Linked DNA regions of Homo sapiens. The protein of the gene in region 3 interacts with the protein of the main gene of each other region in a pairwise test. Each region holds a gene or a part of one and is shown on either strand. Other genes may lie near its edges. The genes, in order: BAG6, ATXN1, GPR75-ASB3, SPRED1, PRKN, PRPS1 and TARDBP.

Evidence for each region.
Region 1: the proteins of GPR75-ASB3 (region 3) and BAG6 interact in binary tests that used the Homo sapiens proteins (3 or more experiments, as listed by UniProt).
Region 2: the proteins of GPR75-ASB3 (region 3) and ATXN1 interact in binary tests that used the Homo sapiens proteins (3 or more experiments, as listed by UniProt).
Region 4: the proteins of GPR75-ASB3 (region 3) and SPRED1 interact in binary tests that used the Homo sapiens proteins (3 or more experiments, as listed by UniProt).
Region 5: the proteins of GPR75-ASB3 (region 3) and PRKN interact in binary tests that used the Homo sapiens proteins (3 or more experiments, as listed by UniProt).
Region 6: the proteins of GPR75-ASB3 (region 3) and PRPS1 interact in binary tests that used the Homo sapiens proteins (3 or more experiments, as listed by UniProt).
Region 7: the proteins of GPR75-ASB3 (region 3) and TARDBP interact in binary tests that used the Homo sapiens proteins (3 or more experiments, as listed by UniProt).

The regions. Positions count from the first base shown.
Region 1 is NC_000006.12:31,645,726-31,650,440, reverse strand, and holds part of BAG6 (large proline-rich protein BAG6), read left to right. Parts: intron 1-813; coding exon 814-931; intron 932-1,045; coding exon 1,046-1,242; intron 1,243-1,476; coding exon 1,477-1,530; intron 1,531-1,689; coding exon 1,690-1,764; intron 1,765-2,614; coding exon 2,615-2,850; intron 2,851-3,917; coding exon 3,918-4,047; intron 4,048-4,715. UniProt on the Homo sapiens protein: ATP-independent molecular chaperone preventing the aggregation of misfolded and hydrophobic patches-containing proteins.
Region 2 is NC_000006.12:16,754,348-16,759,062, reverse strand, and holds part of ATXN1 (ataxin-1), read left to right. Parts: intron 1-4,715. UniProt on the Homo sapiens protein: Chromatin-binding factor that repress Notch signaling in the absence of Notch intracellular domain by acting as a CBF1 corepressor. Binds to the HEY promoter and might assist, along with NCOR2, RBPJ-mediated repression. Binds RNA in vitro.
Region 3 is NC_000002.12:53,671,616-53,675,417, forward strand, and holds part of GPR75-ASB3 (GPR75-ASB3 protein), read right to left. Parts: intron 1-3,802. UniProt on the Homo sapiens protein: Probable substrate-recognition component of a SCF-like ECS (Elongin-Cullin-SOCS-box protein) E3 ubiquitin-protein ligase complex which mediates the ubiquitination and subsequent proteasomal degradation of target proteins. Recognizes TNFRSF1B.
Region 4 is NC_000015.10:38,258,868-38,263,582, forward strand, and holds part of SPRED1 (sprouty-related, EVH1 domain-containing protein 1), read left to right. Parts: intron 1-4,715. UniProt on the Homo sapiens protein: Tyrosine kinase substrate that inhibits growth-factor-mediated activation of MAP kinase. Negatively regulates hematopoiesis of bone marrow.
Region 5 is NC_000006.12:162,258,052-162,262,766, reverse strand, and holds part of PRKN (E3 ubiquitin-protein ligase parkin), read left to right. Parts: intron 1-1; coding exon 2-242; intron 243-4,715. UniProt on the Homo sapiens protein: Functions within a multiprotein E3 ubiquitin ligase complex, catalyzing the covalent attachment of ubiquitin moieties onto substrate proteins. Substrates include SYT11 and VDAC1.
Region 6 is NC_000023.11:107,630,776-107,635,490, forward strand, and holds part of PRPS1 (ribose-phosphate pyrophosphokinase 1), read left to right. Parts: intron 1-4,715. UniProt on the Homo sapiens protein: Catalyzes the synthesis of phosphoribosylpyrophosphate (PRPP) that is essential for nucleotide synthesis.
Region 7 is NC_000001.11:11,022,654-11,026,665, forward strand, and holds the end of TARDBP (TAR DNA-binding protein 43), read left to right. Parts: coding exon 1-1; 3' UTR 2-2,839; downstream 2,840-4,012. UniProt on the Homo sapiens protein: RNA-binding protein that is involved in various steps of RNA biogenesis and processing.

The DNA.
Region 1 (4,715 bases), on a different chromosome or scaffold from region 3:
ATCCACCTGCCTCGGCCTCCCAAAGTGCTGGGATTACAGGTGTGAGCCACTGTGCTGGGACCTTTTTTGCTTTCTTATCTTCTTAGTCTTTCTTCATTAACCTGATACCAGACCCCATCTTCTTTGCCATTTTTTAATCTTGGAAATCACAGGAGAGTCTGGTAAATAAACTGGTATCATCTTGTGTTTGGAAAGGGGTCACTGATGTCTCTAGACACATACTCCCTTGGATGCCAGACAGATAATATAATGTCCATGTGTTTTTTTTTTGTTTTTCATCCGTGTTATTTTTCCTGGATCTATAACCTGAGCTTCATTAAGTTTATTTATTTAATTTTTTGAGATGGAGTCCCTCTCTGTCACCCAGGCTAGAGTGTAGTGATGCGATCTCGGCTCACTGCAACCTCCGCCTCCCGAATTCAAGTGATTCTCTTGCTTCAGCCTCCCTAGTAGCTGGGATTACAGGCGACCACCATGCCTGGCTTATTTTTTTGTATTTTTGGTAAAAAAGGGGTTTTACCATGTTGGCCAGGCTGGTCTCGAACTCCTGACCTAATGTGATCTGCCTGCCTTGGCCTCCCAAAGTGCTGGGATTACAGGTGTGAGCCACCGCGCCAAGCCAAATTTATTGTCTGTATTTTGACAGCTGTTACTTTAGTTTAAGGGTTTGCACAGTAATGATCTCACGGTCAAGACAAACGGGTAGTGATTCTGTGGTGGTTTTTACCCCTCACCTCCACAACTCGGTTGTCTGTCTTTGTTCTTCCTCTTTCCTCCATTCTTTCCATTCCTGTGCATGCCTCTTCTTTTCAGATGAATGTAAAAGAGTTTAAGGAGCACATTGCTGCCTCTGTCAGCATCCCATCTGAAAAACAACGGCTCATTTACCAGGGACGAGTTCTGCAAGATGATAAGAAGCTTCAGGAATACAGTAAGGGGGCTGGGGAGGCAGTTCAGAGGTTGGGGCTACTGTCTGGAGGGATGAACTGAGGCCATGGGTTTACCTGTTCATACTATGTTTTGGTGTGTGTCTATTTTTCTGCAGATGTTGGGGGAAAGGTTATCCACCTGGTGGAACGGGCTCCTCCTCAGACTCACCTCCCTTCTGGGGCATCTTCTGGGACGGGGTCTGCCTCAGCCACTCATGGTGGGGGATCCCCCCCTGGTACTCGGGGGCCTGGGGCCTCTGTTCATGACCGGAATGCCAACAGCTATGTCATGGTTGGAACCTTCAATCTTCCTGTAAGCTTATGTTCCACAGGGGAGGGCTTTTGTGGGTAGCTTTGGTTGTGGTAGCACCAGGGAATTAATAAGATAGATGCTTCCATCTTTAGATTGGGTTCAGGGGGCCCTGTGGTGTGCTATTGGTCTCAGTCTTTAAGGAGAAAAGGAGGTAGGGCTCCAGGGAATGAATTGGAGGTGTGGAGGCCTTAGTGTTGGCTTCTCCCAGAACAACTTCCCTTACCCTTTCCCCAGAGTGACGGCTCTGCTGTGGATGTTCACATCAACATGGAACAGGCCCCGATTCAGGTATTGAGGGGCCTCCGAGGGTCAGGGAAGGGGATCTGGGAGAAGGAGGCTGGGAGGTGGGGTGGACCTGGCTGAGAGATGGCTGGGACCTGATTTAGTAGGTGGTAGAACTCATGGCTTCATCTGTAACCTACCCTGATAAACCTTCTCTCATTGTAGAGTGAGCCCCGGGTACGGCTGGTGATGGCTCAGCACATGATCAGGGATATACAGACCTTACTATCCCGGATGGAGGTAAGTGGGCAAGGCTGGCTAGGGTCTCTCTCCACCCTCCCTCTCCCTTTTCTCTCAGCCTGGGAGTTAGGGCTTCACTGGCCACATCCACAGGGTTTGGCCTTCATAATCTAGTCTTCTCTGCAGTATTCATTCTTTTGGGCAGAAAAAGTATCTTTGTGAGGCTCTCTCATTTCTGCCAATCCTCTTGGTGCCTGGTATCTGGGGAGTTTGTTTCAGACTTAGTCTCATGGCATCTCTTTTCAATTAAAGGATTCTACTCTCTTAACTTGTGGAGGCTGGGAAACCAACTTGTGGAGGAAAGGAAACCACAATCTCTACTCTTTGTTAGAAATTTATTTACAAATATTACAGATGCTGTGGCCGGGTGTGGTGGCTCCTGCCTGTAATCCCAGCACTTTGGGTCGCCATGGCAGGGGGATAACGTGTGGTCAGGAGTTCCAATCCAGCCTGGCCAACATGGTGAAACCCTGTCTCTACTACAAGTACAAAAATTAGTTGGGTGTGGTGGCACGCGCCTGTAGGCCTGGCTACTTAGAAGGCTGAGGCAAGAGAATTTCTTGAACCTGGGAGGCGGAGGTTACAGTGAGCTGAGATCATGCCACTGCACTCCAGCCTGGGCAACAGAGCGAGACTCTGTCTCAAAAAAAAAAAAAAAAATTACAGATGCTTATTATGCATCTAATTTGTGTCAGTCTTATGCTAGTTGCTAGCGAGTCGGAGATAAAATTGCAGAGCCATGCCTTCAGGGAGTCTAGTTAGGATACTTTCTCTGTTCAGTCTCCTGTAGAGTAATCCTCTGCAGCAGTCTTACCCTGCCTTTGGTATCCTGACTCTCCCCTACCTTCAGTGTCGAGGAGGGCCCCAACCGCAGCACAGTCAGCCGCCCCCGCAGCCACCGGCTGTGACCCCGGAGCCAGTAGCCTTGAGCTCTCAAACATCAGAACCAGTTGAAAGTGAAGCACCTCCCCGGGAGCCCATGGAGGCAGAAGAAGTGGAGGAGCGTGCCCCAGCCCAGAACCCGGAGCTCACTCCTGGCCCAGCCCCAGCGGGCCCAACACCTGCCCCGGAAACAAATGCACCCAAGTGAGAGATGGAGGGAATCTTTAGTGGGTGGGGAATCCTAAGTGAAGTATGGGGAGAAGGAAATGAACCATGGCAAGGGAGGGAAAGGATTACTTGGAGGTCTTAGTTGAAGGGTTAGCATTGAGGGGCGAGGAGGGGCTCTCTCGGTATAGGTAAATGACGCTAGGACAGGCAGCTGAGAAGAACTGCTGCTCTCCCTACGGCAAGGAAATCCAAATGGTATCTCCTGAGCCTGATCGGAATTCTCCTCTGAGTTCACGAAGGCCTGCTCTCTTTCTTAGAATTAGTCTTTCACCATTGTAGGTGCAGGATTGTGGTGGGGAGGGTGGGAGCAGTTCATTTTCTTCTCCCTATCCTCTCATGGGTGGGAGTAAAGAATAGAAGCTTTGGCTGGGTGCAGTGGCTCATGCCTGTAATCTCAGCACTTTGGGAGGCAGAGGCGGGCAGATCACCTGAGGTCAGGAGTTCGAGACCAGCCTGGCCAACATGGTGAAACCCTGTCTCTACTAAAAAATACAGGCCGGGCACAGTGGCTCACGCCTGTAATCCCAGCACTTTGGGAGGCCGAGGCGGGTGGATCATGAGGTCAAGAGATCGAGACTATCCTGGCTAACATGATGAAACCCCGTCTCTACTAAAAATACAAAAAATTAGCTGGGCATGGTGGCGGGCACCTGTAGTCCCAGCTACTCGGGAGGCTGAGTCAGGAGAATGGTGTGAACCCAGGAGACGGAGCTTGCAGTGAGCTGAGGTCGCACCACTGCACTCCAGCCTGGGTGATAGAGCGAGACTCTGTCTCAAAAAAAAAAAAAAAAAAAAAAAAACAAAAATTAGCCGGGTGTGGTGGCAGGCAACTTAATCCCAGCTACTTGGGAGGCAGAGGCAGGAGAATCGTTTGAACCTGGGAGGCGGAGGTTGAAGAGAATAGAAGCTCTGCTGGTCCAGAGAAGGATTGGGCCAGGGCTCTGGGAGACCAGGGAGAAAGAGGGCACATGTGGTCCCTGTTGACTGTGAGGGTGGGAATCTGAGGAAGGCTTTGGCTCATTGCCCCTTGGGTTTGTCCACAGCCATCCTTCCCCTGCGGAGTATGTCGAGGTGCTCCAGGAGCTACAGCGGCTGGAGAGTCGCCTCCAGCCCTTCTTGCAGCGCTACTACGAGGTTCTGGGTGCTGCTGCCACCACGGACTACAATAACAATGTGAGCCCTTTGATGGCCCTGCCCTTTCTCCTCAGCCCCAGTACTCCCAAAACAGAACAGGCTGAAATGCAGATAACTCTTTCCCTCCCTGGAAAAACATTGCAACAGGGCCAGGTGCAGTGGCTCACGCCTGTAATCCCAGCACTTTGGGAGGCCAAGGTGGGCGGATCATCTGAGATTGGGAGTTTGAGACCAGCCTGGCCAACATGGTGCAACCCCATCTCTACTGAAAATATAAACATTAGCTGGATGTAGTGGTGCACACCTGTAATCCCAGCTACTCAGGAGGCTGAGGCAGGAGAATCGCTAGAACTCGGGAGGAGGGGGTTGCAGTGAGCCGAGATTGCACTACTGCACTCTAGCCTGGGTGACAGAGCGAGACTGTCTCAAAAAACAAAACAAAACAAAAAAACACACATTGCAACAAAACAATTTCTCTCTAAACCTGTAAGTGATTTTGTCCTCCCTTACAGAGAAGGTGATAATCTTTGCTGTAAGCACTGTCCTCGTATCGTACCCCTTGTGCCCCTGAATGAATTTAGAAAATGTAAAGTACAGGAGATCAGTATATGATGACTTACTGATTCATAGTAGTGTTTTAATAGGATGTTCCTTATGTGAATAAGATATAATTTATTTGCAAAGATTTGGTCTACATGTAAACTTCC
Region 2 (4,715 bases), on a different chromosome or scaffold from region 3:
AGTTCCTAGAAGCCCCCCTTAAGCCCACCCTTCGGTTTATTTGATGGGTAAAGGTAGTTTGATACTTGAGCTTTTTTTGGAGTGAAGCTTATGTCTGAGGAAACCACCAGAGAGAAGAGAAAATCCTGCACAGGAACTCTTGGAAAGGGATTGCACCATAACGGCTAGCGCTGTGGCATTTAATCTCCTCTGATTGCCCTCTCACTGTGCATGCATCAGTCAATATTTTAGCAGCTCCGCAAATAAATGGACTTGAATGCCATCTTCTACATAAAGCAGAGGTTGAAGGGCTCCCCTGAACCTCCTGGCTGCCTGTCAGTGGTGTAGGTTTTCGGTGCACTTACTCCAGTCCTGATCACTCATGTAATTAGATCAGGCTGCCATGGCAACAGACAGTGTTCCTCGTCCATTCAGGTGGGTTTGTCTTGTGCCTGAACTACTCCAAGTGTTTTATGCACAGCATTTATGCTGCCCAAGCCAGACGAGAGACTCCACTATTTCAATTGCATCTTCTTTCAGTCATTTGGATGGGAGACACTGAATGAGGCTTCTAGCTACTCAACTTTTATAAAGGAGACCAACAAGCTGTTCTTCCTAGGTGCAGTATGTAAATGCATCTCCCCAGACAGTGAAAGGAGCCTGACAATCCTGCTGGTGTTTATTGTGAACAGATCAACAAGTATTTGGTACTTGTTAGAAACCTTTCAGAGCTCACTAAAGCAACATTTCTTTTGCAGTCTGGTGCCTTTGGCCTTGCAGTCAGTCACTTAACCCTTTCAAGTGTGAAGAGCGTTCATCATTTGGAACCTCCATTGCCCATAGCGATGGCTGGATTTCTAAAGGGTTTACTCAGGGGAATAACTTATTCGGAAAATATATTCCCATTGTCACATTTTAAAACTTGACAGCCATCATAACAAAAACTGGTACTGACAGTAGGCAGACATTCTGAATGTATTCATTCTTAATTTGGATCTATTGGCTGTGATTTGAATGATCTTTGGTAGTAAGTTAAAAGGATTTTTTTTTCCTTAGCTAAGCGAGAAACGATAGAGGCCTATAGCTAGAGGACTGATAGTGCATGGTGCTTTTGGACAATAAACATGTACTTTATTTTAGGATGTAATTTAGTGAGCAGTTAGAAAGCAGTATTCTAGTCTTTGCATTAGGGCACCACTGATAAAGCTGGCTAAGCAAAGAGAAATAATATTATGGCAAAAAGGAAAAAAGGAAAAGTTGCTTTAGTTGCTGAAGCTCTGTGCTGCTCAGGCAATCCAACTAAGTGGGGCAGGGGGCGGGCGGGGGGGAGTATTTTCATAACCCTGGTATTTGAAAGAAAAGATAATTGAGAATTATGTCTTGATTTAGTTGTGACTGCCAGTCAGTTTACAATTTTATGGCCAACAAAGCTAAACTGGTAAATTTTTTCCCCCAGGGCTAGGATTGAGAGAGCTACTCAACTCTATTCCCAGGGGGTTTATGAGTTTTTACCGTTTTGTGAGTTTATGTGGTTGGTAAATTCATTGTGGCCTGGTCAGATGAAGCACTGCTGTAGTTAAAATGAGCTATTATTTCTTCTAGCTACTCAACTTTTATAAGGTGGTAAATAGATGGGAAGCAAGGATGTCAATATTACACAATGCCTTGGAGGTCCTGGATTCTATTTTGCAACATATAGAAAAATGCTTTACTTGCAGTAAAATGTGAACATATATTTTTCAGTGCACAAATAAATTCATGTGAAAATAAGTATAAAAAAATGTACCTGGTGGGAACCGCCAAAGGCAATATTTTTCCTTGCGGATTTCGTTTTAAGAGGGTTTGGTAAACAGAAGTGACACTTTGTCAAAAATGTTACGACTAGACTTCAGGACTTCTGAATTGTCTTTTACACTTAGAGGAAGATTAAACAGAAACTCTTTAGCCACAAGATTACATGTCAAATGCCTGTAAGTTTCAACATACCTAAGTCAGTTGCCTAGGAGTCCTGGGAAAGGCCAGTGCTGAGATTATTGAAATATTAGTAAACATTACTATGACTCCTGTTTTTGTTGTCATTATGGAGTCCAAGGACGCACATTTCTTTGAATAATGTTGTGCCTTTATTGTTTTTCATTCTGAAATGTCAAGTGGATTTTACTTTTTTGCACATACCTTGAGTGACAGTTTCTGATGACTAACACTAACACTCATTTTGTTTCCTATTAAAAGTTAAGCAATAAACATATTTTACTAAAATTCTGAAACTCACGTAAGTAGGTAAATGTGGGAGTGAATGTTAATTCTTTAAACTGTAGTTATCTGAAAATAACACATAGATTAGGATCTGAACAGCTTAAATACTTGCATCGGTAAAGTGACAATAGTGAAGTAAGACAGGCTATTATTTTTAGGGGAGAGATAGATTATTTGACTTTCCTTGCTCTGTATTTTCAGAGTAATTCAATAGTTCGAATGATTAGTTTCTGTGAGAGATTTAGATCTGTGCAGCTTAATTGCTTCAAATAACAGATTTAGTTCTGGTCATACTTCCAAGGTTATCAGAAGCAGGCCCTCCTTATTTTGATAAAAGCATTGAAAGCAATACATTGTAGAAATGGTAATAGAAATAATAATTTCTGTTTTAGGACCTTACATATAGAACTTCCTTTTCTAAGATAAGAATTTTAAGTCATCAATTATGTTCACATTTTATTTTCATGTAATTTAGTTTAATAAAATAAATGTACTCATTCAAAATTTTTTTAAGAAGTGATATACAGTGTCAGTTTTACAGAATTTTTTAAATGTTGGCTGAAAGAACGGTAATTACATTGAGATTTTTAAAAATATATAAATGCTTAAAATTACAGAAGTAATAAAAAGAATGGTTTTAGACAAATCTTATGGAAAGTTTTTTATTTTATTCTTTTATAATTATATTTATGGATATTTGTCTTTATTAGTGTAGTAATATATTTTATAACGCTCATAATTTGAACTTTCAGGCTAATGTACTATAAATATTTGTATTACGCATTACTACCATCCCAAATGTACCAAAACACGTTTAGAGAGAACAATTATGGACAAAAAAGCAACAAGCATTATATTTTGTTTGACATATTTCATGTTAGCAGAAATGTTTCATTGATTTTTCTGTAACTTTTAATGCATCCCATTTGTGGAGTAATGAAAATGTAATGATAATTGCCACAATGTAAGCAAAAATTGTATCCTACCTGAAAATTACTTTCCAGAAAATTCATGGTAGTGTACTCAGAATTTGAGACTCAAGAGGGCAGAGGTTTCCCCGATTGTGATGTTTTGATTTGGGCTAAGAGGAACTCTTTTTTTTTTTTTTTACACTTAGGTGCCCTTTAACATGACAAGTTTTGAATGAGTTAGGTAGCAGAAGTTTTTCGTGACAGTTATTGTAGCTACTAACCTATAGCATCTATCCTTCTAACGTTCAAAGAAAATATATTTTTCTGTCACTGTGTATGGCAAACTTTATTTTCTTGTGCCCTTAATTTTGTTCCCCTTTCTCACATTATCTCCTGGTACTTACTGACCATTACCTCAGTTTTGTTTAGGCCGTCTTTCTTGTTAATCTTCCAATATTAATAGTATTGTATTATGTTGCTCTGCTGGGTTTTAAAAATATTGAGTATTCCATTTTTGGTGTATATTATTGTATAAAATGTCCTATAAATTATTTTCTGGTATATTATTTTGTAAGTTTTTGCAGTGAATACGTGCTGCCTTGCTTGTATTCTTGCCTTCTTCCCTCTGATGGAATACAAGTTATGTAAACTCTCTGTATTATCCTAACTAGTGCAGCAACACAAATACTTTTGAAATAAGAAAGCATACTCATGCAAGAGTAAAGTAATCTTCTATGGCATTTACATCATGTTTGACCCTCCTCTGCACTTCAGCAAACTAGGAGGAGGTTGTAACTTGGACTCTATAAAACCTTATCTGCCAGGTGATATGTAAACAGGATTGTGTGCACACACATTGTCATATAGGCAAACACTCTCCCAACTGGTGAGCTCATAAAAAGCACTGTCTGTAAATTTATGGTACCTGCACCTCATTTGAGAATCAAGTATTTTGATGCTTAATTTGAGATGACATCATGATCCTCCCTCCCTGCTTCCTCATCCTTAAAGAAGTACTAAGATTAAATAGAATTTTGTCAACTTCTACTTAACTTGGCCATTATTTATATTTGTAACTCAACAGGCTTCTTGGTGGAGGGACTGTGCCTTCTAAAGATCTGAAAGACCTTATAGTGTATAACAGCTTACCTTCCTTCTCTGTACGCACAGATCACATGTGGGGAAACCAAGGACTACAAGAATTCCTTCTTTTGCATATCAGTCCTCGGCAGGCAATCAATGCTTAAATAAATGCTTGGTGAATGGATTAGTTAGAAGTAAGAACATTTTGGCTACTGTTCATTACTTTGAAAAGTGCTGGAAAGAAGTGGAAGTTATTTTCCTTTCCAGCTGGGCTGTGCTCTTAAAAATAGTGAGTGTGTATGGATGAAAATAATCATGAGTACCGAGATGTGTTGCCATGTACCCAAGGATAATTGGCTCACTTACCTGTTTACGGATTATTCACATTGGAGATCATATTCATAGCTCCAGAATAGTTTCTTTCTGACATCCAATATAAACCTGGGCCTCCTTCTTCCTACTGTTACCTGGCGTGAGCTTAGGAAA
Region 3 (3,802 bases):
TGGCGTGGTGGCACATGCCTGTAATCCCACCTACTAGGGAGGCTGAGGCAAAATAATTGCTTGAACCTGGGAGGCGGAGGTTGCAGTGAGCCGAGATCATGCCACTGCACTCCAGCCTGGGCAACAAGAGGGAAACTCCTTCTCAAAAAAAAAAAGAAAAGAATCATATGATAGCAGTTTCATTTTCCAAGATGAAAAGTGTTAAATAAAGAAGTTAATGTCTGCTTTTATGTGAATCGGACCAAAGCCTTTTGTTAATTCAAGAAATCTTTTATAAATCCCTGTGAAATTTAACAATGATGAACAGACCAGGATCAGAGCATCAAAGACAAGTACTATCAAGAGCACAGCTGATACCAGACCAGCTAGTCTGATTCCAGGTATAGGGTTCTTTAAACTCTAATACCCATAGGGCTTGAGACCAATTAATTCTCTAACATCTTCAATATCTTCCAAGCCATAGAAGTTAACTCATCATCGTTTTTAGTTTACTAGTTTAGGTTTAGTTTAGTTTATTCAGAATTAAAGAAATCACTCAAACTGGTGTTTCAAAATGCCAAATAAGAAAGCAAAAGTTATCGATTTTGTACATAAAACCTAAGTCTAAGCTGGGCATTTTCTTAAATCATGAGTCATAGATTCCCTATTATAAATAATAAGATTACAGTATCTATAGTATATAGCACGCACATTTATTTCTAACTTTTTTCATATCCATATCTTACTTAAATTTGACACTTTTCTGTAAACTTAAAGGAGAAATGATGGTTCTCACATGAAAGATGGGAAGACACAGGTAAAGGGGCCACTGGAGGAAGTTGCAGGAATACATATGGAAAGCAGGCCCAAGCTGCAAACACCACCGTTTTCCAAAGGTTTAAGTAGATTGACTATGTTCAACTATCAAGTATAAGGAAGCCCTCTTAGTAGGATCATGAACAATAATTGGTCAGTTAATAGAAACTCACCTTAAAGCAGGTGACCACAACAACCATACATACTTTAAACATTCTAATTTAAAATGGATACATGAACACATCTAGAATGCAACATCTATGGCTTGCAGTTTATTTATGTATTTTTTACTCACCACTATATAAATAAGGACACAGTTTCACTTTCTTTGAGTTACAGCATGGATTTAAAGGCATGTATGAAACAAGGTGAGTGCATAATCCTTCCATATTTTTACAGGTTTTTTTGCTTTCAGTTGTTGTAGCCACGTCTAATTCAATATCTATTTCTGTTCTGTGCTTATCTTTATCAAGTCTTTTGCATTCTACTTTGCCTTAACAGCAACAATGATTCTCTTTTCACACTCATAATTCATTAGCTTGTGCAATCTGGAATTATTTAACTCCAATAATATGCACAACGTAATAAAAAGTTTCAGAAATAAGCATAACTGCTGTTTGGTAAGCACACACCTCTGCTGGTAGGAACACTGGCATTCTAGAGTGTAGCTGGCCAGCTGCAAACACAGAGCATGCCAATGGACATAGTCAGATGGAAATGAAAGAGAAAATGACAAGACTGTTTAATCCAGTGTGTGTTTTTAAAGAGAATTTCTACTTATATTCAGTTAGAGTTTAACAGGCATCTGTTAAATTGAATCTCTTCATTCTGCACATTCTTAGGAACATGAATACTTACTACACAACCAGAAGGAAGATAAAGGATGGCTGTGCAACCCGGAGGAGAGCTGCTCACATGGAGATAAGGGATCCTTAATGATGCTCCAGCTTCTCAGAGTGGACAGACTACACTGGCTTAAAATTCTATGGGCTGACTGGGAAGATTCCTCCAGATACCCTAAAACTTAATGTAGTGCTGACCAGCTTTTCTAGATTATGTGACTACATCACTGGAGGTCTATCTTTAAAGCTTAATAAATCATTTGTTTATGCTAATTATGTGTAGAAGCTTAACCATTAGTGATCAAGCCACACTAGACCAGTTCGCATTTGTTAGGAGAAGCGTAACTGACTTGCCCACTGAGATGTGGCACATCAACAACATAGCTGTTGTTAACTAGATCTCAATGATTTGACTCCCAGTCCAGGGTTCTTTAAACTATGATAAGCTCAATATAATTCTCCAACATCTTCTAAACCACTGAAACTATCATAAATTTCAGAATATCTTTCCATTTAATAATAAAAAAGGAAAAGTATAGCTACTTCAGGTATTGGTTCAAATTTTAATTGCACCATTTTGGTTTTCCTTCTAAGAGCACAACAGATCACTGGCCTAATGAACAATTAGAGGTAAGAACTATGTTCAGCTGAACTGAGGGAGTGTTTCATGTGTAGATTATTAACACAGACAATAATATGCCTGTCAGTGCCATTTTTGTTTAATATGCCAGTAAATACTAAGGGAATTTTATAACCATATATGCAATATTTCAAAGCACACAAAATCCCTATGAAAGTTTTAGTGATGCATAGTTATTTCCAGACGTGTTGCCACTAGGCTAGAAGATCAAGCCATGCCTTGAATTTATAATACGAAAAAGGCCACAGAAGCTGTATGTAAAACATACTTTCATGAAAACCTATTAAAACTATATTTTAGTTTTGTTAAATACATCTCCATGTTCTTGGATTATGGCAGTGATTGTAACCTAGAAAATGACGTCTGAAACCATGCTACACTTCTAAGTCACTTTTCTGACCCAATCATTTTTATTCAATATGTTAAACTTAGTTTATCCATAGATCTATTAGCAGATGAGTAATATTTAACTTTTAATTCCTATACAGAATTCCTCTATTTTGTTCATTTTGTTATATGTACTGGCAGAACAATCAAAATAGAAGACTACATGTTGTTATACAAAGTTTTGTTAAAATCAAAAGCACACACAATGATCAAAATAAACGTCACAATTCTTAATTCATTATGCTTATAAATGCCAACTTTACTATAGCACAAAACTATATCTATATCATACACACCCACTATATTTTCTACATTCATCTTTAGCCTTCCCTCAGGCCAATGTTCAAACAACCTATCTGCCTGAACTACATTTCTCTGGTTCCTTTGAAATGTTTTGCACATCAAATGCATTTATCTGACTTCTGAGACACCTACTACCATTTTTATTTTCATCATTAATATATTGTCTTTCTCGTTGGTATCCATCCTTTTGTTCCCAGTTTTTCTTAATTTACTTGTGTTGTCTCTCTCATTGACTATAACTAAAACCGCTAGAAAAAACACAAAAAGCAAGTACCTGAGAACTCTGAAAAACAAGTAATAGATTAGGACATGAAGTCAAAACAATAGGAATGGCCAGTATAAAGGAATGACCAGTAGAGGCAATGAATGGATTAAATGGAAAAGCACCATCTAGTAGTAACACCTGTGCTGGCGCTGAGGTGCCACTATTAACTAGCTGTGTGACCCTGGGCAAGTCATCTAAATATTCTGACTTTCAGTTACCTTTCCATAAAATGAGAATAATGCCTCATCTACAAAATGGGCATAATGACACTTCCCTGCATCAAAAGGCTGTTGATGATGTTCAAGTTGGAACACATTTGCAAAAGCATTTCATAAAGTGAAACACCACACAAATCCCAGGCACCACAGAATCTAGTGATCTCCAAATGTTTTGATTACACACTAAATTAGTAAAGTCTCTGACCACAGAATCCAATATATATTTTACATATAAATTACATGTATACTATTAACCAAACATTATTTGTACTATAAAATAAAATAAGCCAATATAAAATAAGATATATACTTTAAATAATTTCATTTTTAAAGGTATAAGACTCCTTTAAAT
Region 4 (4,715 bases), on a different chromosome or scaffold from region 3:
AGAACACTGGACTTGAAATTGGGAGATGGATTTCTTTTGTAGCTATTTTTAATTTATTCTCTAATCCTGGGCTCTGTAGGCCTCAGTTTGCTGATTTATAAATTAAAGAATTTGGACTAAGCATCATATGTGCCCTTCCTTTGTTGATGGTGTATGATTTAGACTTTGTTAATTTTATTATATTGTTATTTTTGACATACTTAAACAAAAGACTTAAGAGTAGAAGTGGTAGGAAGATTAGGTAAAAGCATGCATTTTGAACAATTAAGATACAAAATTTGGAAACAATTGGTATATTAATAGTCTTTTAAGACTTACTTTGGGCTTAATAGCCATGTATCTTTGATGACACAAAATTTTGTACTACTCAATTTTGTTTTTTATGTATTTATTTATTTTAAAGAGGCAGGGTCTTGCAGTGTTGTCCAGGCTGGAGGGCAGTACAGTGGTATGATCATAGCTCACTGCAGCCTTGAACTCCTGGGTTCAAGTGATCTCCCACCTGTGCCTCTTAAGTAGCTAGGACGACAGGTGTGCCACCACACCTGGCTAATTTTAAAATTTTTTGTGGTGATCGGGTCCTGCCCAGGCTGGTCTCAAATTCCTTGGCTCAAGTGATCCTCTTGCCTTGGCCTCCCAAAGGGCTGGGATTACTGGCATGAGCCACCATGCACAGCCCTCATTTTAAAAAAGAGAAAAAAAGTATGGCCTCCATCTGTGGATGAATAAGTAAACAAAGGCTATTGGGCTTAAACACCAACTTGATTAGTTCTACAAGGAATATGCTAACAAGATACCAGTCTTTATGCTTTACTTACAGAAGTAAGTTTTTTACTAGGTCACTTATACAAATCAGTAATGTAACACTAGGGGATAACTGTATATTAGTTTAAGAAGTTAACTCAGGTAATGAATTTTGTTATTCTTTAATGTTTAGATTTATGATAAGTATTATGTCATAGCTGCATCTCAGAATCCAGAACCAAAATTATTACATATCTGTGAGATTGTGTTTTTGCGATACTCAGAATGAAAAACAGTTCATTAATAATGGATTTCACGCTAAGGTATTATGTTGCTGTAGACAAAGCATTCTTAAAATTCAGAGTGTTTGCGGGCTTGAAGGAAAATGTGACGTTCTTACTAATCTCAACCTGAACATTCATAATTAAAGGAAGTGTTAACAAGCTATGACAGTATTAGAGGTACTTGTGACAGCAAATGTGTTAGTTTTTATTGCTGCTTTAACAACGTACTACAAATTGGGTGGCTTAAAAAGCAACAACAAGTTTATTGTCTCACAATTACTAAAGGTCCAAAATCAAAAAGTTGGCAGGGCCATGTTCCCTCTAAAACCAGTAGGGGAATCCTTTCTTTTGTCTTCCTTGCTTCTGGTGGTTGTTGGGAACCTTTCACATTCCTGAGCTTGGAGCTGCATAATTCCATGTCTTCATCATCACATGGCGGTGTTCTCCCTGTGTGTTTCTATCTTCATTTGAGTGATACCAGTCATTGGATTAGGAGCCTACCCTACTGCAGTATGACCTCATCTTAACTAATAAGGTCATGGGGCTAGGACTTCTACATGTATTTTGGGGGAGACACAGTTCAACCCATAACACCAATAGAAACTACGGATTTTTTTTTTCTTATAGCACAATTGCTGTTAGCTGTTACAGCTATCTTGAAATACCATTTATAGTCATCACTAATTTGAAATTATTATAGTTATTAAAGCTATTGCTAGAGCATATATTTTAAAGTGTTAATAAAGAACCGCATTATTACCATATCAAAATGAAAAATATTTCAATAACTATGTCAATATAATTAATTTCTTTTGTAATACTGTGTATGTTGTTTTAGGCCCCTAATATTGTTCTGAGAAAGGGGTCATAAGCTTTACCAGGCTGCCAAAAACATCCATGACACAAAAGGCTAAAATCTTCTGCAATGGACAGAAGCCCAGAAGCCTGAACCCAAAGATAGAGATATAAAATAGGAAGAGTAAGAAACATGAGGATAAGATGAGTAACTCCAACATACAGCTAACAGTTCCAAAAGAAGAGAATAGAGGAGACGAAATATTACAAATAGTGGCTGCAAATTTTTAAGAACTAGCAAATCAAACCTCACTCAGCGAACTAGAACAAAACAAAGCCTCACAGTCAAATGGGGTTTATCTTGAGGATGTAAGAATGGATCAACATGAGAAAAGCAGTGCATTTTATCACATTTGAAGATTAATGGAGAGAAATGATACGATCTTAATAAATGCCAGAAATGTCATTTAATCTCTGCCCATAATAAAGTAAATGTTCATAAATATAGAGACAAATTATTTTTCTGCTCTCTAGAATTTCAGATTTTTAATTTTTCTGATTTAAAACGAGGGTGTGGGATTTACTTAACTTTGGGATTTTAGTCCAAGAGTTCTAGAATCATAACTGATTTTTTTGTACTTCTGAATTAATATATCATTTCTGTTACTCAGATGTAGGATTGACTGGTGGAAATTGCCTTGTGTCTGAAATTTCTGAATTACCTTGCAAGGCATTTCTTTCTGTGTTTGGAGAGCAAAGAATAACCTTTAGTAAATTCAAGAGTAATTGGAATTAAATTTCAGCCTAATATCAGTTTAATAATTTTATGTCTAAATTTAATCTGTATGACAGGAGTTATAATTTGTTTTTGTTTTTGTTTTTGTTTTTTTAATTTATTTTTTAGACGGAGTCTTGCTCTGTCTCCCAGGCTGGAGTGCAGTGGCGCCATCTCGGCTCACTGCAAGCTCCGCCTCCTGGGTTCACGCCTTTCTAACAGGAGTTATAATTTGGATAAAGGCCATTATGAACTTGGAATGTGGAATGTAATTCTTTTTCCTGGTAGTATTTAGTGATACTATTGCATGTGATTAAACACATTTTGCTTGAGCTGTTCATGTAGTTAGGAATTACATTCACAAATACAGTGTTTTTTAATGACTTCTATATATTAGCATCCCGTGGCAGGATTGCCAAAAATTTAGATAAAATTTAGTGAGTTGTGTCTTTTCTGATGCCACTTTTTCAAAGTTACTGTAACTTTTACCACTTCAGAGTGTTTTTATTCACTTCAGCACAGTCACCAAACTCTTTTTTTTTTTTTTTTACTGTTTTATTGTGTTATTTTTATACTGTGAGATTGGGGAGTTCTGGGGTTTCCCCCCTTAATATGTAAAAGCAGTATTAAACATTTCAGAATTTTAGTTGCTGGATTATATATATTGACTTTTTACACTTTCAGGATAGATTTGAACAGGGACCATTAATAACTTTTTCCTAAAGAAATTCAGTTCAGTGGCATTTGAATGAGTGCTTACTAGGCACTTGACTTTTGCCTTAGCTTTGGAGATACAAAGATAATTAAAACTTTAAAATCGCTATCACAGTCCACAAGGGAAATAGATACTTCTGAAATGTGATGGGTGTTCTGGTTATAAAGTTCTTCAAGGCTCAAGGAGAAAGTGATTCTACCTGGGAGTTGGTGGCAGGATGGTGACTGTGTGAAGGAAGGCTTCAGGAAAGAAGTGGCATTTTAAGAGTCAGCCATGAATGAGAGCATGGAATGGGGGAAGGGTATTCCAACCAGGAAGAGAGGGGGCAGAAGACAAGCACAGAAAGAAGAAAAAGTTGGAGGAAAGGCAATACCTTTTTGGATACAGTTGTTTGGAGGAGTTGTTAAGGAAAGTGTTGAGGGACCAGATTGTGAGTAGTGTAGATTTGTGCTTACCTGTATATCACCAACTGTGGGGCAAGGGATGGTGGCTAGGCCTAAAATATGAGACACAATATGAGCATGGCAGAAGCCCCTGGAAATCAGTTTTTCTTGAAAAGTTGAATATTTATCTGACTGGTTAGTAATAAGATGAATTTTGAACAGAGTTCCCATTAATTTTATAGATGAAACACCGAAGAGTTGAAAGAAAATTTGTTCTTTGAGCTACCTTCCCTCCTCACCACAACTATCTTTAGTCAGTAAGGATACTTAATGAGAGACACCAGGTGAAGTTTTCATCATGTAGACAGTGGCGACTCAGTATTTTAAGTGAGGGAATGATAATCCAATTTGTGTAAAGCAGGGCTTCTTAGGACAGTTGACTGGAGGGAGAAGAAAATGAACTTCAGTTGATGAGGAAGAATGTAGTAAGACAACAAAACAGAGCTGGGAATAGAGCATTTGGAACTATTGGGGACTCATATGAGAAGAAATTCAAATGTCCAACGATTATTTGACTGAATGTGAAGGAAGGAGTAGGAAGGTTGTGGGATGACTTGAACATTTTAAATTTAGGCCGCTGTAATGCTTTTAAATGAAGGTGGGAATAGAGATGAACCCGGTTTTTTAAATGGGAAAATAACCCAGTTTTGATCTTTTTTAGTCTGGGTGCTTACTGGATGTCAAGGTAGAAAGTGTCCAACAAGGTGCTTTAACTATAGGTTGAGTTCTCAAAAAGGTTAAGAGGGTAGAGTTATAGTGACATCTTCAGCATATATAGTAGTTGAGGCCAGTGGAAAATTTCCCATTGAGAATATTAAGTAATAATGGAAAGATGACAAGTGAGAAACAGCAGTGTTTTTAAGGGAGAGTAGAAGAAAGAAGAGACGCCAAAAGACGGAAGTGGCTTAAGTGGTAGGAGAGCTCTGAGAGGAAAGTATTTTAGAAGCCAAGGGAAAAAG
Region 5 (4,715 bases), on a different chromosome or scaffold from region 3:
GAATTGTGACCTGGATCAGCAGAGCATTGTTCACATTGTGCAGAGACCGTGGAGAAAAGGTCAAGAAATGAATGCAACTGGAGGCGACGACCCCAGAAACGCGGCGGGAGGCTGTGAGCGGGAGCCCCAGAGCTTGACTCGGGTGGACCTCAGCAGCTCAGTCCTCCCAGGAGACTCTGTGGGGCTGGCTGTCATTCTGCACACTGACAGCAGGAAGGACTCACCACCAGCTGGAAGTCCAGGTAATTGGAATGCTCTAAGATTATTAAAGCATTTTGTTTGTTTGTTTAGTGCAGTCTGCATGGAGCATGGCCTCACCGGGTGCATATTTAGTTTATGATACGTTTTGGATTGGAGTCTCTAATTCACTACAAGGAGACATCACTGTAGGTGGAGTACTTTGATGTAACATTTGAGAATGCATTTATTGTAAGTACTATGAAACAGGTTTTCATATTGAGATTAAATATAAGAGATATGTTTCTAGTGATGTAGAAAAATTCTAAAAAGCAGAAAGAACTCTAAAGCTAATCGAGCCATTTGTAGTTTCTAAAGCCAGATATGCCAATGGCAATGACATCCTTAGTGTGAAAGGACTCTTCCTTCTCTCTATGCTACCACCCATTTCAAAATGCTTTTCTTTGGCAAAGATTGTTATTGTTTAGTTATTTTAAAAAAATTAATATGTGCCTCTTAGTCTTTTATTCTCTAATCTAAATAGTCAAAGGTGTAATAGAATTAATTTTTACTGTGTTTGACAGAAGACACAAAATAATCACAATGACTTTACAGGGTAGAAGTTGATTTTCCTCCCACATACAATAGATCCTGGCAGTTGTGGGCTGGTATGGCCTTCACAGTGTCAGAAAGTTCTGGGGCCTGCAAGATGGAAGCCTAACATAATAAGAAATGCCTCCTACTAAACTTACTAAATAAAATTTAAGGAACTTAAAAATTTTCGATGATCTTGCAAAAAATAAAAAAAGATAATTTCCAAGGACAAGTGAAAATGTAGAAACAACATCTTTAAATACAGGAGTAGATAAGCCCAGAAAGTAAGGCATTAACTGATGCTCTGGTGATCTTGAGATGATTGTGGGAGGGAAAGAGGCTCTGCTTCATGTGAGCTGGGCACCTCAGGTCTGGAAAGAAAAATTGAGAAATGGAAATAAATGTCAAAAATGGGGAAAAATGAGATAAATCTAAACCCCTGCAATACTCTTGTGACCAGAATAATATATTAATATAAATATCGAACCCAAGCCCATAACAATTCTGACGTTTCAACCAGAGTATGTATAAGATCATTCTGACACTGACACCTCTAGAGAATACTCATGCTCCAACATTATAAACCAAACAATGGAAAATTCCACCTTGAGTGTGTATGAGACCAGAATATGCCACCCCAAAATATGCCACTTTAGCATAAGTATTATTTTAAGCTGATTATTTTGAGAAACAGTAGACACAGGAAAAGCTCTAAAAACAGAGTAGAAGTGACCCTTTTGTAAGGGAAATTTATATCTACCAAGGAAGTCTCCATTTGTAAGGGTGTCTCCCTCTCCTTACTAGGATGAGGAGGACAGAGTCTCTGGAGACTCTGATCCTTGAGAAGGCACCAACTGAATAATCTGCCTAACAAACCTTACTCTTGTCTTCTCCTCTCCCTTTCTTCCTTTGCCATTGAAGATGGTATTCAAGCCTGAATTTTAGGCACCTCTTTGAGATTTATGCATTTTTTCTGGGTGTCTCACATGTACAGTTGTCCCTCCCCATCAACAGGCAATACGTTTCAAATCCCCCAGTGTACGCCTGAAACCAAAAATGGTACCAAACCCTATATTTACTATGTTTGTTCCTGTACAACTGTATAACAGATTGGATTTATTATGTTAGGAGACCTATCTACTAGTTCTTTAATTTGATTTCCCAAAATAAAATTCTTACTAAAAATAAAAAAATCACATTGTTTAGAGCAAAATTAAACCTTTACTTATTATCTGAATATTAAAAACAATTTGAGCACAAGAATCCTGTTGTGTACATATTCATGTTCTTTAATACATTTCCTAGTGCATCTGGCTCTACTCTCTTATCAACCATATTCATCTGAAAATTTTAGTCTTCTTATTTTGTTTTATCATAAAATTGCCCTTGGTCTTCTCCAGAATTTTCTTTTATGAGAATGAACTTAGAATTATTGACACTTTCAACTGACTCTCTCTCTCTCTCTAGACCATAATATTTTAAGAAAATATAGTATTCTCTCTATATAGGGTCTGAAGTACCAGTAGGCACTGAGAAAATTCTGCTAAATGTCTAATATTCTCTTTATATTTTTAAATTGAAATGTGTGATTATTTCAACCCAAACAATAGAGAATAAATTCTAGTAAATTTATGGAATGTGGTAAATGACAGCAGCCTTCAGAGTACTGTATGATCTATGATGATGCGCTGTTTCACCTTGACTTTCCACTCATGTCTGAGTCACATCTAACCTCTGATCACCCTGTTTCTCATTTACCCCTCTGTCTTGTGGCCTGCCAGCCTTGTGCTTTTGGCAGGCTAGGGACTGGCTCAGGCAACTCTACATGGTGCAGTTGGGGGCTGCAGGGTTGCCATCCTAACACTTCTCCCTGCACCACTACACACTGGGGGCAACTTCCTGGCACCCTACATGCTGCTACTAAAAGGCCTCTGTAAAGATATGTTGCATCTGTAAAGATTGGGAAAAGAGAGATGGTGCATCCCAGGTCAACTTTCAGATTTAACTCTGTGTTAAACTAACAGCTAAACTACAAGTAATCCTCTCCTGCTCATTAGAACTGGAGGGAATCCTTTTCAGAACTCTTAGGACTCTCCCTTATTACTTGCTATTTTGTACTCCAGTTCTGACTTCACCTTTTAATCTCTTTGAGGATGGAGTTTTTGTCCAATTAACTGTAGTTTTCCCCAAAATCTCTTAGAAGAGTGGTGATACATGTTTACTAAATTGCTTCAAATTGTAAACATAGTCAGTCATTCAACAGAACTCCTGTGCATTTAGCTTTTAGAGCGAATGCTTTATTTAAAATTATACAGAGAAATTGAGATTTCATCTCTTCAAATGTCTTGGTTCATTCTTGGTTTGAGTTAAGACTGAATGGAATGATTTGAAATGACTATATGCAAACAGTATGCCTATATGATTATTTTTCTTCACTAAAAATGATAGCGTAAAGTTACTAGAGCAGAGATTCACAGACTCTCATGTGCAGAATTATCTTGCATGTTTTTCCATGTTTCTTTGATGGCCAGAATGGCGAGAAAAAAAATCTTCTTTCATTCTTTTTCTGTGACCAGAAATTTTGATGTATTTGTCTGGGGGTAGAGGCCCCAAAATGTTGGTACTGACCATACTCTGAGAAACTCTGCCCTATGGCTAAGGTTTTCCAGCCTTACAATTATGGATCCTACCTGTTGTTCTCACGGAACAATCGGACGCTGGGTGGGAGAACAGAGGCAGGTCGGTGAGAGGTGAACACACCAAGCCAATCACAGCAGCCTGAGACCATTCCTCTTTACGTACTTCACATATTAAACACATAAAACATCTATCATTTGAAAAGATGAAAAAAATCCTTGGTTATACAATGTTTGAAAACCTGTGCCTCAGAAAAAGAGATTAAAAGAAATCCCAATTTTCTGTGCTTCCAGAGTCTTCAATTTTAACTTCGAAGAATATAAGTGCTGGCTGGACGTGGGAGGGCTCTAATGGGTGAATAGCTGGGCTGTAGCCTCATATGTTGTCGAAACAAATGGAAACTTCTGAAACCCGAGAAGGTGCCTTTCAAGTATTTTTAGTTGGCAAAAGATAAGTGGTCAACATGAGAGGTGATAACATGATGTACATGAAGAACCAGTTACACTGTTGGTACTAAGAACGCAAGCATGTCACACTAAAGACTTGTAAGAGGACGTCAAAGAACTGGAACGAGTCATTGAAGTAGTTTTTACAGCAGTGCCACTCAAGCTTTAGTGCTCATCAGAATCACCTGAGGACCTATAAAAGCACAGATGACTGGGCCCAGACCAGTTGGCCTTGGATGGAAGCTGAGAAGTTGCGTTTCCAGCAAGCTCCCAGGTGATGCTAACACCGCGGGCCCAGGGGCTGTGCTTTGAGTAGTACTGCCCGAAATAGTAAAAAATAGTATTCCTTAAAATATGGTCAGTGAATAAAATCTATTTTTACTACATTTTCAATAAGAACGTTGAGCTGCACCTGGGCTCCAGGGTGCCTGTGTGTAAATTACCTTCATGTGTTATTGGTGTTTCCTAAATGAGGCGCCATTCATCATCTCCTGACAGATGAGATGAAGCTATTGGACCTAGCAAAAAAATAGGAGGCTCCTCCAATATCCGTCATACAGTTAACGAACTACATAAACAAATAACGATTGAGTCCTTACTCTGTGCCAAGCACAGTGCCAGGTACTGGGATGTAGCAGAAAATAGAAACAGACAAGATGCCTACCTCAACGGAGCTATTCTATTTGGAGCAGCTAGTAAGTGTGTGTTCTATCGAGAAACAGCAGAGTCAAGGGGACAAAGAGTATTGGTGGGGAGTTCCGTAATATACAGCAGCCGCGAGGCCTGTGTGATGAGCTAAACTGTGAGGAGGGCACCCTCAGGGAGCATCCATTTGTGTGCCAAATGGCAGAGGCGACAGCA
Region 6 (4,715 bases), on a different chromosome or scaffold from region 3:
GAGGGGGTGGGTGTTAAAAGTGCTGAAATCAGAGAACTTGGATCTGAATCCTTAACCTTTCTTTGCCCCAATAATCTAATCTGTAAAGTAGTACCTACCCATACTGTTGTTATGAGGATTAAATGAGATAGAAGTAAAGTTCTTAGGATCTTGTCCAAAACATAATAAGTACAACAGTAAATGTTGACAAGAAGGGGTGGTGATAATATTGCAGAAAATGTGGAAAATTTAGAACACGGAAGGGAGAAGATATGCCTCTTAATTCTGCCACCTGACATAAATGTCACATTATCATTTCTGACCTCCCAGATATTTGTGTAAGATACACTTTTTCAAGAATGTTTAATACATTTATAGCTCTCTTCACTTAGCAATATATTTTGAACAGTTTCTCCCTTTAATATTTAGTATATATGATTTTCTTTTTTTATTATTAAAGATTTTAATTTATTTTTTAGAGATGAGGTCTCACTATGTTGCCCAGGCTGGAGTCCAATAGCTACTCACAGGCACAATCATAGCACACTGCATCCTCAAACTCGCGGGCTCAAGTGATCTGCCTGCCTCTGCCTCTCAAGTAGTTGAGAATACAGGCATGCACCACTGAGGTGGGCTAGTTCATGTAATTTTAAATAGCTATATAGTCTTACCTTATGGTTATGCCATAATTTTATATAACCAAATTCTTATTGGACATTTCCAGTTTTTGATCTAATGCTTTTATATGAAAATCCATGAACATAAATCTTTGACCATTTCTGATTATTTCCTTAGAATAAATCCCTAGGAAGGTAATTATTAAGTTAAAGGGTAGATACCATTTTTCAGGCTTTTGATACCTGTTGCCAAATTATTCCCCAGAAAAGTTGAACAAATCTGTCTCATCAGCAGTAATACAATATTAATAATATTTATTTATGTATTTATTTTTTGAGACGGAGTTTCACTCTTACTGCCCAGGAGTGCAGTGGTGCGATCTCAGCTCACTGCAACCTCCGCCACCCAGGTTCAAGCAGTTCTCCTGCCTCAGCCTCCCGAGTAGCTGGGATTACAGGCACGTGCCACCACGCCCAGCTAATATTTTGTATTTTTAGTAGAGACAGGGTTTCACCATGTTGGCCAGGCTGGTTTCAAACTCCTGACCTCAGGTGATCCCCCACACCTTGGCCTCCCAAAGTGCTGGGATTATAGGTGTGAGCTACCGTGCCCGGCTATAATATTTAATGTATAGTGAATGCCTAAGATGTGCTAGTTTCCATGCTAAGCATTTAGTATACATTGTGTTTAATCCCCTCAAAACTGCTATGAGGAATAACTCTTACTATCCCTATTTTACAGAGAAGAGAACTACAGTAAGATGCAGAGTAACTTGCCCAGCTCTGGGTATTATTGTTCCTTTAAATTTTTGCTGACAAGATCTCTCACCTGGCTTTAAAAACTTAGATATTCTAAAATTTTGACTCTATTCTCTTCAATATTTGTAAATAACTTTGGTTTATTTGGTTATTCTGTACTAGCTGAGAGGAGGAAGACTTGAACTTTGGTTGCCTAGGGTTTTCCTGAGAACTGTATCTTCTGGTTGTGGTTAGTTAATCCCATGTATTTTGCACATGCCAATATCTCCATAATCTAAATTCTTCAGATTTTCTTAAGACTACTATCCACCTTTTAGATTCACTTTTGGTGTTTCCTGACATTCCATTTCAATTGGATACACTTATGCCTGACCTTAAAGGAAAGGGAAAAGAGAAGCTAGTTTTTTCACTCATTGGATAGACATAGCCAGTCTTCTGGCCTCACCAAAACAGCTGAGAGAATGATTGGCCCAAAGCCATTTGGAGAACACTCCATTAACTAGAGGGAGAGAACAAGGAGTATTACTCTCTAAATTGCTGAATTAGGTTTTTCCACTTAATAGATTATGTTAGGAGCAAACAGGTTTTAGGCACAAATATTCTTCTCGATCACTGCCATAACTTAGAAGAAGCCATAAGAATAAGGTTAAGATTTTTAGAGGACTTGTTGAACCAAGCTGTATAATCAGAGTGCAATTCACGGACTTTTTAAGACTTTGTCAAACAAAGTCTGTATGTTATAGTACTACTATAGGGAAAGATTGGTTTTAATAAGTGAAATTAGAATTATACACATTAAAACAAGGCAGTATCACCTAGTTTACTTGCACCACCTTATTTTATTTATGTATTTGCTTTCTAAGTTTCTCTACTTTTATTTCATTTTTGTAAGATCTTTTCAAAAGCCCCACATTTTTTAAACAGTTAAATAACCTTTTCAAGTTATTAGATACATGCCTTATAACAAACACCTTCTATGCTGAAGGTAGCTTTTAATTTTAAAAAGTTTGAGCCGGGTGCGGTGGCTCACGTCTGTAATCCCAGCACTTTGGGAGGCCGAGGCGGGTGGATCACGAGGTCAGGAGATCGAGACCATCCTGGCTAACACGGTGAAACCCTGTCTCTACTAAAAATACAAAAAATTAGCTGGGCATGGTGGCAGACGCCTGTAGTCCCAGCTACTCGGGAGGCTGAGACAGGAGAATGGTGTGAACCCAGGAGGCGGAGCTTGCAGTGAGCTGAGATCCTGCCACTGCACTCCAGCCTGGGCAACAGAGCGAGACTCCATCTCAAAAAAAAAAAAAAAAAAAAGTTTGGCTTTGAGAAATAGCTGAGCTGTTGATTGATTATTAAGTGATATAATAACAAAAATGGTACTAGCGACTGTATTGGGTGGTAAGCTGATAAGTGATTTTTATTTATTTTTATTTTTTGTTTGATAAGTGATTTATAAAAAATTATTATTCAAGCCTTATGTGATGTTAGAATATGTATATTTTAAAAATAATCACCTTGGCTGGGTGCGGTGGCTCACACCTGTAATTCCAGCACTTTGGGAGGCCAAGGCAGGCGGATCACCTGAGGTCAGGAGTTTGAGACCAGCCTGGCCAATGTGGCAAAACCCCATCTCTACTAAAAATACAAAAATTAGCCAGGCGTGGTGGCACACACCTGTAGTCCCAGCTACTTGGGTGGCTGAGGCAGGAGAATCACTTGAACCTGGGAGGCAGAGGTTGCAGTGAGCAGAGATCACACCATTGCACTCCAGCCTGGGTGACAGAGTGAGATTCCGTCTCAAAAAAAATAAATACAATTTAAAAAATAAAATAATCAACTCTATTAAAGCTATATATTTATCAGATGCCCTTTGATGTTTTAATTAGCAGTGATAATTTAATTTTTAAATAGTATCTCACCTGCTTTCAAGAAAGGATTTGAAGTATGTTTGATAGTCACTAGTACAAACCGTTTGTTAAGGTAGGTATCAGAAGCCTTATAGAACCATGGACTACAGTAATTGTGGCAACTATTTGGCATAAAACAATTTCTAAAGTTTAGTGTTACTTTTTATTTTATTTATGTATTTATTTATTTATTTTTTTGAGATGGAGTCTAGCTCTGTCTCCCAGGCTGGAGTGCAGTGGCGCGATCTCGGTTCACTGCAAGCTCTGTCTCTCGGGTTCACGCCATTCTCCTGCCTCAGCCTCCCGAGTAGCTGGGACTATAAGCGCCCACCACCACGCCCAGCTAATGGCTAATTTTTTTTTTTTTTTTGTATTTTTAGTAGAGACGGGGTTTCACCATGTTAGCCAGGATGGTCTCGATCTCCTGACCTCAGGTGATCTGCCCACCTCGGCCTCCTAAAGTGCTGGGATTACAGGCGTGAGCCACCGCCCCAGCCTAGTGTTACATTTTTTTAACTGTATCCCTTGGCTTCCTGACAGCCAGAGGGATAAAGGCATATGCAATCGATTATGTGGTTTTTATTTTCATAAAGTTATTTAGAAACTTCCAGGCAAAAAATCCTAAGAATTTTATGGGTGAGACCTCTAAATAGTGATATCGAGTAACATCATGGACAATATAACAATTTTGTGGGTATTTTTTATATTGACTGATAGTTGAGGCATTTGTAAAGGGAGATAAGCCACTGTGGTCTAAGAATGTTGTTTTCTGGTCTTACTTGATAATGATAAAGTTTTTTGTTTTTTTTTTTTTTGAGACAGAGTCTCGCTCTCTCGCTCTGTCTCCCAGGCTGGAGTGCAATGACTTGATCTCGGTTCACTGCAAGCTCTGCCTCCCAGGTTCACGCCATTCCCCTGCCTCAGCCTCCCGAGTAGCTGGGACTACAGGCGCCCGCCACCACACCTGGCTAATTTTTTTGTATTTTTTAGTAGAGACGGGGTTTCACCGTGTTAGCCAGGATGGTCTCGATCACCTGACCTCGTGATCCGCCCGCCTCGGCCTCCCAAAGTGCTGGGATTACAGGCGTGAGCCACCGTGCCCAGCGATAATGATAAAGTTTTAAAAACATAGCAGAATAGCTTGTCCCTTATACTGTCTGATATCAATTGTCAAACTACATTTGTTCATTTGTTCTCCAACTTTTAATCAAACATCCTGACTCTGGCAAGTGAATGTCTGGAGCACAGATGATACTCTGTGTTCTTGACTGAAACAAGAGCCATAGGCTTCTGATACATGATTGGAAATCAATATGCCTGCCTGACTTTCATTCTCCTCCAGGGAAATGCATATTTTGGTCAAGGAGCTGATATATGGAGGATGAATGTGAGCAGCATTAAAATTTTCTGATTTTTTTTTTTTTTGAGACAGTGTCTCACTCTGTCACCCAGGCTG
Region 7 (4,012 bases), on a different chromosome or scaffold from region 3:
GACAGTGGGGTTGTGGTTGGTTGGTATAGAATGGTGGGAATTCAAATTTTTCTAAACTCATGGTAAGTATATTGTAAAATACATATGTACTAAGAATTTTCAAAATTGGTTTGTTCAGTGTGGAGTATATTCAGCAGTATTTTTGACATTTTTCTTTAGAAAAAGGAAGAGCTAAAGGAATTTTATAAGTTTTGTTACATGAAAGGTTGAAATATTGAGTGGTTGAAAGTGAACTGCTGTTTGCCTGATTGGTAAACCAACACACTACAATTGATATCAAAAGGTTTCTCCTGTAATATTTTATCCCTGGACTTGTCAAGTGAATTCTTTGCATGTTCAAAACGGAAACCATTGATTAGAACTACATTCTTTACCCCTTGTTTTAATTTGAACCCCACCATATGGATTTTTTTCCTTAAGAAAATCTCCTTTTAGGAGATCATGGTGTCACAGTGTTTGGTTCTTTTGTTTTGTTTTTTAACACTTGTCTCCCCTCATACACAAAAGTACAATATGAAGCCTTCATTTAATCTCTGCAGTTCATCTCATTTCAAATGTTTATGGAAGAAGCACTTCATTGAAAGTAGTGCTGTAAATATTCTGCCATAGGAATACTGTCTACATGCTTTCTCATTCAAGAATTCGTCATCACGCATCACAGGCCGCGTCTTTGACGGTGGGTGTCCCATTTTTATCCGCTACTCTTTATTTCATGGAGTCGTATCAACGCTATGAACGCAAGGCTGTGATATGGAACCAGAAGGCTGTCTGAACTTTTGAAACCTTGTGTGGGATTGATGGTGGTGCCGAGGCATGAAAGGCTAGTATGAGCGAGAAAAGGAGAGAGCGCGTGCAGAGACTTGGTGGTGCATAATGGATATTTTTTAACTTGGCGAGATGTGTCTCTCAATCCTGTGGCTTTGGTGAGAGAGTGTGCAGAGAGCAATGATAGCAAATAATGTACGAATGTTTTTTGCATTCAAAGGACATCCACATCTGTTGGAAGACTTTTAAGTGAGTTTTTGTTCTTAGATAACCCACATTAGATGAATGTGTTAAGTGAAATGATACTTGTACTCCCCCTACCCCTTTGTCAACTGCTGTGAATGCTGTATGGTGTGTGTTCTCTTCTGTTACTGATATGTAAGTGTGGCAATGTGAACTGAAGCTGATGGGCTGAGAACATGGACTGAGCTTGTGGTGTGCTTTGCAGGAGGACTTGAAGCAGAGTTCACCAGTGAGCTCAGGTGTCTCAAAGAAGGGTGGAAGTTCTAATGTCTGTTAGCTACCCATAAGAATGCTGTTTGCTGCAGTTCTGTGTCCTGTGCTTGGATGCTTTTTATAAGAGTTGTCATTGTTGGAAATTCTTAAATAAAACTGATTTAAATAATATGTGTCTTTGTTTTGCAGCCCTGAATGCAAAGAATTCATAGCAGTTAATTCCCCTTTTTTGACCCTTTTGAGATGGAACTTTCATAAAGTTTCTTGGCAGTAGTTTATTTTGCTTCAAATAAACTTATTTGAAAAGTTGTCTCAAGTCAAATGGATTCATCACCTGTCATGCATTGACACCTGATACCCAGACTTAATTGGTATTTGTTCTTGCATTGGCCAAAGTGAAAATTTTTTTTTTTCTTTTGAAATCTAGTTTTGAATAAGTCTGGGTGACCGCACCTAAAATGGTAAGCAGTACCCTCCGGCTTTTTCTTAGTGCCTCTGTGCATTTGGGTGATGTTCTATTTACATGGCCTGTGTAAATCTCCATTGGGAAGTCATGCCTTCTAAAAAGATTCTTATTTGGGGGAGTGGGCAAAATGTTGATTATTTTCTAATGCTTTGTAGCAAAGCATATCAATTGAAAAGGGAATATCAGCACCTTCCTAGTTTGGGATTTGAAAAGTGGAATTAATTGCAGTAGGGATAAAGTAGAAGAAACCACAAATTATCTTGTGCCTGAAATCCATTAAGAGGCCTGATAGCTTTAAGAATTAGGGTGGGTTGTCTGTCTGGAAGTGTTAAGTGGAATGGGCTTTGTCCTCCAGGAGGTGGGGGAATGTGGTAACATTGAATACAGTTGAATAAAATCGCTTACAAAACTCACACTCTCACAATGCATTGTTAAGTATGTAAAAGCAATAACATTGATTCTCTGTTGTACTTTTTTGTAACTAATTCTGTGAGAGTTGAGCTCATTTTCTAGTTGGAAGAATGTGATATTTGTTGTGTTGGTAGTTTACCTAATGCCCTTACCTAATTAGATTATGATAAATAGGTTTGTCATTTTGCAAGTTACATAAACATTTATCAATGAAGTCATCCTTTAGACTTGTAATCGCCACATTGTTTCATTATTCAGTTTCCTCTGTAAAGGGATCTTGAGTTGTTTTAATTTTTTTTTTCTGCATCTGAATCTGCATGATTTCCAAACCCTGTACCATCTGAATTTTGCATTTTAGCACTTGCACTATTACTCAGCAGCAGTAACATGGTAACACTTAAAATGGTACTCGGGGACCTCCAAAGACTAAACTGACAAGCCTTCAAGGAGCCCAGGGGTAAGTTAACTTGTCAACGGCATGGTTTAATCCCTTCTTTACACTTGTGTAAATTTCAGTTACTGGTCATAGAAGGCTTTCAATGTTGAGTGGCCTTTTATTAACATGTTTATGGTACTGCATAGATACGGGTATTTATTTTACCCTAAGAAGATTTTGAAGTTTAAAAGTACTTAAACTATTTGGCAAAGATTTGTTTTTAAAAATCTATTTGGTCAATCTAAATGCATTCATTCTAAAAAATTTTTTGAACCAGATAAATAAAATTTTTTTTTGACACCACAGTTTAGTGTCTGGAGTCTTACTGGAAAAACACGATTTCTTTTTATATGTGATATACAGATGCTGGAAAGTTACCTTTAAAAATTGAGTCTCTAAAGAAAAAAGAAAATAATAAAAATTGAGTCTCAAGAAGTTGTACTTCATATGCACAAGAGAAATGAGGCCAAGACTCACAGTAAGCTTTTACATGGAATGGTAACTTTTAGTTAGACTGAAAAACTTGAATGTTAGCTATTAAAACCTTTTAGGAAGGAATAGCCAGCTAAAACCAAATGAGATTTTTAAAGTTAAATCAGCACTTAAGTTGTGTCCTTAGTAGGAAAAAGTAGGAAGTTAACTACTCCGTAATCCAAGAGATAATGTGTAACAGTAAGAATGATTTTGTTGTTGTTGAGTATGAGCAAAGTAGCCCCTAAGTGTGTATTAGGGTTCTGTACTTAACTGTTGTGTGATGTGTGCTTTTGTTAGGCATCACTGTGCCCAAGTATTTCATGTTCATTGTAAAGAGGAAAAATACAGATTTCTCTATAATGTCACCACTTATTTCTAATGCCACTTTTCATCTTGTGGAAATGCCATGTTTTGATTCAGTCTTCTGAATTTGAACATTATTCAGGTTATTTCCAATTGCTGGGAATATCCTTACTGCTAAAATAAATTCTTAGCATTGGAATTGCTAGGTCAAAGATTATGCATGCTTTTTAAGGGCTTTTGAAATGTATTGCCAGTCTGTGGCCTGCCACCCTCCCTGAACATGCCTGGTCTTGCTTAAAATGTATTGCCAAATAGTCCTTGGGAAGTTTATGTTGTCTTTAACAATGTGAAATAGTACTACTATTCACGTTCCTTTTGTCTGACAATTTGATAAGTGAATAATTGTATCCCACCATTCTGTAGTATTGGTTTTTAACATGGAAATTTTAGTCAATACCTGGGCTGAAGTATCAGTGTTTCCAACCTACCTACCCAAAAAAAGGATTCAAGGTTATTCCTCAATCAGTACTGCCATAATATATAAAGCACTTACAGAGATCAATAAGAACAAGTTTAAAAACAAAGAGCATGGACAGGCAGTTTACAGAAATGCCAACAGCCAGTATGAAAAGAGACTGGCTTTTTAAGGTAATGAAATGTAATTTGAGCAGTGACATTACACTGGGTGGGCAAAGATGACT